Linked DNA regions of Homo sapiens. The protein of the gene in region 2 interacts with the protein of the main gene of each other region in a biochemical or structural test. Each region holds a gene or a part of one and is shown on either strand. Other genes may lie near its edges. The genes, in order: NPHS2 and LMX1B.

Region 1 (4,116 bases), on a different chromosome or scaffold from region 2:
AGTATTCATGCATTCACTTATTCATATGGATATAATACTTCAAAACACTAACTGGGAATAAGTGTAATACTTTAGAAAGCCTTGCACTCTTTCATAATCTTTCACCTTGGAAACATAAAAGTAAACAGCTTTAATTGATCCTCCCTTTCTTCTAGTAACCCAGTTCCCACAGATGTCAGTTTCTTAACAAATCCAAACAAGGAGTAAAGTATTGAGAGTTTCAGAATGTGTGCATATCATATTTTCAGCAAAGGGATGAGCAACACTTTCAATTAAAAAGGAATCTAAAAGAAAACAGCAGCATCCTTGTAAAAGTAGATGAGGACAGCCAGCTGGACTTAGCTGCTAACTCAGCACTCCCTTCCCCAACTCCTCCACCTTCCAGCCATGCTGCATTGACCTTTTTATCATGGAATGGTATGCAGCTTCTCTGATTTTGTCATTGTCACTCATAATCCCAGCAGACTTGTGTTATAAGCAGCTGCTTATATTGCTGTTATGTATAGATATAGAAATGTAACTTGTCAGTGGTCAAAGAAGCCAAGGAAACTGAGCAAAGGTGACTGAGAACAAGTGCTCAGCATGGGCTCCAACACCCAGTAGGGCCTTTTCTCATTGATTTTTCTCCTACAAGGAATTTCTCTCTTATTGAAAGACAGTACAGTTTGGGGAATATCATTTGACCAGATATCCTGCTCCATTCTTGGAATGAAAAACAGGTGCAATTTTAGTATAAGAGTCTAGCTAGGGATGCGGATGAAATTAATTTATAACAGGACCAGGCTGAGGAAAAACACCAATAAATGCTACAAATAGTTTGTCACTTTTTCTAACAGGGAAATCTCTAAAGGATGATAAAGATGCTAGCTGTGTTTAATAGCAAATGTTAATTTGGGGGAATATGAAATAATCATGATATCTTTCTCTCTTTGAGCCAAACGCAGCTTTGGAATTTTTCTCACTGTAGTGTTGTAGGCAGAAACTATCAACTGAGGCAGGCCCTTGCGAGGAAATATTTATCCTCCTTAGCCCATGCAATGATCAGGTTTAGACAGTAAAAAATCTATTTAAGTGACTGGATTGCTCATCTTTTATTTACTTTACTCCCAGTGGCCTAACCTGGAACATATAGAAGAAAGTAGTGGAATGGTTTTTCCAGACGCACTTCAGTTACTTCAGGTCCTCAGTGTTTAATAAGGTTTTGGGAGAGAAAAAAAGCTATTGCTGTGTGAATTCAATAAATATTTAAAAAATTTAAAAAATCAGTGAGCATTATTTCTGCCATCATGTGATCTGAACTATCTGAGTAGTATCATAAATCTTGGGTGATGGGTTACCTTGACCAACCTCCCTTTCAGTAAGAAACAAATTATTAACAGAAAGTGAAAGAGAAATAAACCTATTCAATGTTTCAAGTCCCTCAGAAGAGGGTGAGGCAGCTCCCCAGATCGTTGCTAGATCCAGCCTGGCCAATGAACCCTGAAAAAGCCCAACTCCTGCTTTCATCATGGAAGCACGGGACAAAGTGTCTCTTCCTAAAAACAGAAGTTAGACCAGACCCCTTCCTGCCTATGATTCTTCAAGAAGCATTGCATCATCAACATCAGGCATAAGCATTAATAAAGACCCTAAATAATAACAGAGACGAAACACATCGCAAAGAGAGTTTTCTTTTATCCCCTTTAAAATGTAAATACTCCCAGGAGGAATCAGCCAACATCATTAGGGGTTAATGCATATGTAGAATAACTAGGGCCAGGATATAAAATAAGAAATACGTAGGGAGGAGAGAAAGGCATCCTTGAGACGACTCCAAGAAGGAAAGTTGGGGATGAGGCGAAATTTCTGATTTTACCTTAAAGTGACCCTAATTCGATGACCTTTTGTGGTTTTTTTCTTTTTTCTTTTTTCTTTTTTACTTGGCCCTGCCCAAGCAGGACCTAAAAACAAACAGACAAAAAAGGTTACTAACAACTGTTCCTCTCCACGAAAATCTGCAGTAAAAGGTAAAAGATGTATTCGTTTTGAAGAGAAACCAGAGCTTGCGATGAGCTTCTGTATCTCCGTCAGCCCTCTAGCATGACATTAGGAACCCTCCAGGAGATGAGTCTTCACAGCCCGGGTTGGCACCTGCAGACACGCACTTTTCAACGCCCGCACCCTGCCCGGGGCCGGCTCTCCCACCCAGGCCTCTCTCTGCTTCAGCGCCGCCCCGGCCGTGGGAGTCGGCGGGCGCAGTCCACAGCTCCACCAAGACACAGCTGTCGGGGTTCCGGGTGCGCCCCGCCCGCGGCCCCGGTGTCCCGCCCCTCGCCCTCAGCCCCCACCCGACGGTCTTTAGGGTCCCCCGGGCACGCCACGCGGACCCGCAGCGACTCCACAGGGACTGCGCTCCCGTGCCCCTAGCGCTCCCGCGCTGCTGCTCCAGCCGCCCGGCAGCTCTGAGGATGGAGAGGAGGGCGCGGAGCTCCTCCAGGGAGTCCCGCGGGCGAGGCGGCAGGACTCCGCACAAGGAGAACAAGAGGGCAAAGGCCGAGAGGAGCGGCGGAGGCCGCGGGCGCCAGGAGGCTGGGCCCGAGCCGTCGGGCTCCGGACGGGCGGGGACCCCGGGGGAGCCCCGAGCGCCCGCCGCCACGGTGGTGGACGTGGATGAGGTCCGAGGCTCCGGCGAGGAGGGCACCGAGGTGGTGGCGCTGTTGGAGAGCGAGCGGCCCGAGGAAGGTACGGATTCAGCACCACTATCTGCTACTTTTCCAGGTGGTAACTAAGGGGCGTCAGATAAGGTGGAAAGGGTCATCCCCACGAGACCCACTGAAGCCAGAGCAGATTGCTGGATGCTCAGGTTCCCAGGAACGGAAGGGCGTAAGTTAGGAACCCAGCAACCTGCTATGGTGAGCAAAGAACATCAGAAGAAATACAAATATCACTATATACTGGTCTCGGGGCCAGCCTTGGATGGGACTGGGGAGCGAGTGTGGTACAGGTTGGGGACGAAGCAACTTGGCAAAGGAGCCATGGACTTGGTTTTTGTGGCCATGGAGGGGCATACGGGCACCTAATTTAAGTAAAGACATGCACGAGCTGGTGGCTGTAGGCTGTAGGCTTATTCTTCTTCCAGCGTCCCCACCCCTCGGTCTTACCTAAAAGCATTTTAAACTTCTGGGAAGATGATCATTCTTTCTGAAAAGCAGTCGCAGCAGAGCCAAGTGAGGAAGAGCCACACCTGAGTTTAAATCACAGCTCAACCACTTGCTAGCCATGTGATCATAGGAAGGACCTTAACCATCTCTCCTATAACAGTACCTGCCTCAGAGGGTAGTGGTAAGGATACAATGAGAAAAGGCATCCAAAGCACTTTGCACAAAGTCTGGAACAAAAACTTACTCAATTCCAGCTGCAAGCTAAGAGAGAGGAAAATTAGATCAAAGGAGGGAATGCAAAGAAAGGTGTCTCTTTTGCTTCTGCAGGAGAAACAACTCTTGGGAAAATTTTGTCTACCTCCAGTCTTTTTTATAATGAGTGGAAGAAAAAAATGATTACCACTTTAGTGGGATGACAGGTGTTAAAAGAAATTAAATAAGGAATAGTGTGTTATATTGCTTCCTGCTGGCTCTGAAGTTTTAACATTTCCTAGTTACCAGCAAAGCAGTACATGCTGGATCACTGAAAGCTACCATTTAAGGAAGATTTCTGCAGTTGGGGTATAATTTAAATGGGTCACGTTAATACTGTTTTGCCCAGTTGATGATACCCTTTCATCAGTCAGAAACCTCTGTTCAGTAAATGGTTGCTGGGTTCAATGCTGAGGTTAGAGGGCTTGTAACTGTGAGGCAGCAGATCACACTGGTAGGGTAGACAAGTAAGGAAGCCACCATTTATGAAACCCCTACTATATGCCAGGCACACACTGGGTGTTTTACTGAGTTATTTAATCTCTCACCATCCTCTTATCACAGATGAGGAAACATGCTCTGAGAAATTAAGTAACATGCCCAAGTCGTGTAGCTGGGAAGTAGAGAAGCCAAAATCCCAGAGTAAGACAGTCTGATTGAAATGCTCACCCTTGCTTGCTGCTGCCCCTCATTTCTGGTCATGGTCCTATAGCTGTGGCCTTGG
Region 2 (3,600 bases):
CACCCACACAATCAGGTTTTCCACCTCTCTTGAGGTGCAGGAGAGGATAATGGATCCCCCGGAGAATGGAATATTTATTAAAGTTCCACCAGGTGCCTGTGTAATCCTCACAACCACCCTGCAAAGTCACATCATCACCCCCAGTTTGTTGATGAGGCCCCAGCTCAGAGATGGGCAACCACTTAGCGAAGATCACACAGCTGCTAAGACTTGGGGCTGGGAGGTGAACTCAGGTCTGACTCCGAGTCTAAAGCTCTTTTCATGGCTGAGGAAGGCAAGACTTTTACAGTGTCCTACGAAGGGAAAGGCAATGGCTTCCCCAGGGTGCTCCTCATCCTCCCTGCATGGAGAGGCTCATGGTAAACCCTGTGTACCATGGAACCTGGGTAGAGAACCTGTTGGCAGTGTGGTGTGTGTCCTTGGAGACAAGGTATTCCCTGCCATGCTCATGGTGAGAAGAGTAACAGCAATAACTTCCAGAGTATTAATAACAAGCCAGGCAAGATGCCAGGTCCTTTGGGGCACCTTATCTCAAGTCCTTATAAGAATACTTGCCCCCAGCAGAATAAGTCCCCATTTCACAGAGGAGGATCAGGTAGGTGCCACGGCCGTGGGTCTCTAAGCCTGGCTCCAATGGACAGGGCAGGAAAGAGCTGACAGTCACCAATCACATACCCCAGAGGAGATCCTCCCAGCCTGCTTCCCCCACTCAAGAAAAATAGGGCAAACAAATAAGGCCACACCAGCCCAGCGCCCGGGGAGTCGAGGGTGAGCCAGGAGTCACTGTGAATAATGCCTCCGTTCAGCAGCAGGGGACTGCAGCCTCAGGAAGGCCTGTGCTTACCGTCTTGCACACAGCCAAGGTGCCGGGGTTAAATGGAGAGGTACCCTCCAAAGGGCCAGAGGGTCCCCAGACTTGGGCTGCCAGGGTGAGCCCTTTGGGCCTCAGCCCCCAGAGACAGCACCATAGAAGCCTTTTTGTAAGGCAAAGTCCTGGCTCCTCCTCCCAAGCAGTTTCCAGGACAGGCGCTCTGCAGCCCTGAATGAGTTTGATGGTTGGGGCAGGGGGGCTCGCTGGTTGGGGTACACACTGGGGAAGGGGTGCTGCTTGAGACTGGCACCCTGCAGGAGGGCCTATGGGAGGCCTTCCAGGCTGGCAGAAGAAGTAGCCAGAGAAGGCCGGAGCCTGACTGCTCTCCCCCTGGGCCACACCCGAACGCGGGAGCTGGATGGGGAGTGTGGGGGGAGAGGTGAGCCTCCCAAGAAGGTCTTTCCCGGGGTAAACACTTCCAAGGAAAGGAATGCGCAGGGCAGAGCGGTTGGGCCACTGGAGCCACAGCCAGCTGGGGGAAATTTTTTAAAAACTCACCCCAGGACTCAAGAGGGCTTTCTGTGAAACTCAATCAAAGCCTCGATGCTCCCCTGCTGCCAACGTAGGCACATCCTACCTGGACAGGCGAGCCCAAAGGGCCCCCAGCGGGCCCGGCGGAGCCCTGAAGTCTGTGTCGCCGAGAGGCTCGGCCGCCCGGGCAGGCCCTGCGGGCGGAAGGACGCCGCGGCCCCGCCGCCGAGGTAGGAGCGCGGCCCGGGCCGGAACCCCGCGTCTCGCCGTGCACAAAGGCGCCCGCTTGCACCCCAGCGGGTCTCGGGTCGCCAAACCTGGGAGCTGTCTTACAAGCGATTAGACTCCATTTTGTGACAGATTTTTGGACTCTCCCACCGACCCTCCCCCCTTCCGGAGCCTCCTCCAGGAATTCTCCACCTCTTCAGGATAAAAACCCTTTCCAGACGAGCGACAGACGGCAAGAAAAGAGAGTTACATAATTCTATTCGGCCAAGCCGCCAAGATAAAAACATGGGAGGGGGGAAAGTGCCTTATTTTTCATTTGTTCTCCGGTGGAGGACGGTGAGAGGTGTTCTGATTTGGGGGAGGCTGCGTTTCCTCTCCGTTTCCTAACTGGTTTTCTGTCCGAAAAGGCTGCTTTTTCTTTTTTTTGAAGGAGCCCCCAAAACTCACACATGGGGAAAAAGGAGACTTTTGGAGTTAAGAGTGAAAATGCCCAAACTCCACGGCCGGCGCTCTGCTCTGCCCGCCAAGGATGTACAAGAGGATTTTTATCAAATTCGGCTCAATGTGCCCCAGTGTCAATTAATCACCCCCGTGGTGCGTAAGACAACTTGGCACTTCTGGGTGTCTGGGATCTTTGAGAACAAATCGAAAGGAAGAAGAGACATTTACTAAAAATGGCAACCTCTTTTTAAGGACGGAGCCCTGCAACTCAGCCAGGGGTGAGGACACATTTTTCAGAAGTTGTGTTTGGTGGGGGGATTGTTAATTTCTCAATACCGCTGACGCACAGACTCGACAATATCAAGAAGGCACGTTTCTGCGCCCGCTTGCTTGGATTCCTGTCTGAAAAGCATTTACGCACAGATGAAATAAATATGCATCTGCAATTCTCAAAGAAAAAAAGAAATGTGAATAAAAAAATTTTTATTGTGCAAAGAACATCCCTTTCCAGTGGCTGCTGCCTGCCTGGAGCGGCGCTCCATCTCCCTGTGAAACGACTCACTGGCTATTTGTCCTGATAACAATCACCCCACCCCCCACCCCCCACCCCCAGCACATCCTGCCGGCCGGCCTAACGCAGATACCTAATTGGCGTTATTGGAAAAAATAGAATGAGGGTGGAGGAATGAACTGTCCACAGCTAGAATAATGCACTCCCCACCCCAGGCTTCAGCCCCACAGGATCCAGACTGAGTGAGGTCTTCGGACCTGAGATTCGCCCTGTGCCAAAAATCATTCTCAACACACCGGACTGCACTGAAGAAGCTGGCTGTTAGGTGACTCTTTCCTTTTCTTTTTAAAACAAATATACTTTGGACAAAGCAGTAGCAAATGCTTAACGTTTAATTGTTTTGTAAGATGAGGGGGTGAGCCGCTCATCTCTAAGGCAACATCCAGCTGAAATTTCGTGACTTTACCATTCTGTGCCTGAAGAACCAGGGGTTATCCTTTCCTTTTTTTTTTTAAAGAGAAGCTCCGTAAATAATTATGGGGAGTGGGGGGAGGGCAGAATATGTACACGCGATTCATAAGTCTTTTCAATATATTAACAAGTTTTTTTCTTTTTTTTAAGCTGTGCAAATGATTTGGAGGCCGGTTTTAGTTTCCTGGGCCCCCTTCCCCCATGTGTTGTCGTAAAGGCTGGTGGCTGAGCTGGGTGTAAGTGGCACTGCCAGAGCTCGGGATCAGGCAAGCAGAGTGAGGCCAGGGGTGCAGGGCGTGGTGGGGAGGGGGCTAGAGGCTGGTGCACCCTACAGAGGGGCTCCTCTAGCCAGCCCAGAGCCCACAGCCACATCTACCCCAAACTATTTTCCCCATTCAATTTGTGCTGCTCTATGCTTGGGCTGTGACTGAACGGACTGGCGTCTCCCTCTCCCGGAACTAGAATCATATTAGTTCAGAGCACAGCACAAAGCCGACCTACGGCAGTGTGCCTAAATCTGGGGTGCTTCCTACTGAGAGGAAGGCCTCAGCTGCACTCTGGGACCAGCAAAACAGCTGAACCTCTGAATGGACTCCAATCCCTACCC

What was found.
Region 1: the proteins of LMX1B (region 2) and NPHS2 form a complex in vitro, tested with the Homo sapiens proteins (one study listed by BioGRID).

The regions. Positions count from the first base shown.
Region 1 is NC_000001.11:179,574,196-179,578,311, reverse strand, and holds the start of NPHS2 (podocin), read left to right. Parts: upstream 1-2,363; 5' UTR 2,364-2,447; coding exon 2,448-2,721; intron 2,722-4,116. UniProt on the Homo sapiens protein: Plays a role in the regulation of glomerular permeability, acting probably as a linker between the plasma membrane and the cytoskeleton.
Region 2 is NC_000009.12:126,616,928-126,620,527, reverse strand, and holds part of LMX1B (LIM homeobox transcription factor 1-beta), read right to left. Parts: intron 1-3,600. UniProt on the Homo sapiens protein: Transcription factor involved in the regulation of podocyte-expressed genes. Essential for the specification of dorsal limb fate at both the zeugopodal and autopodal levels.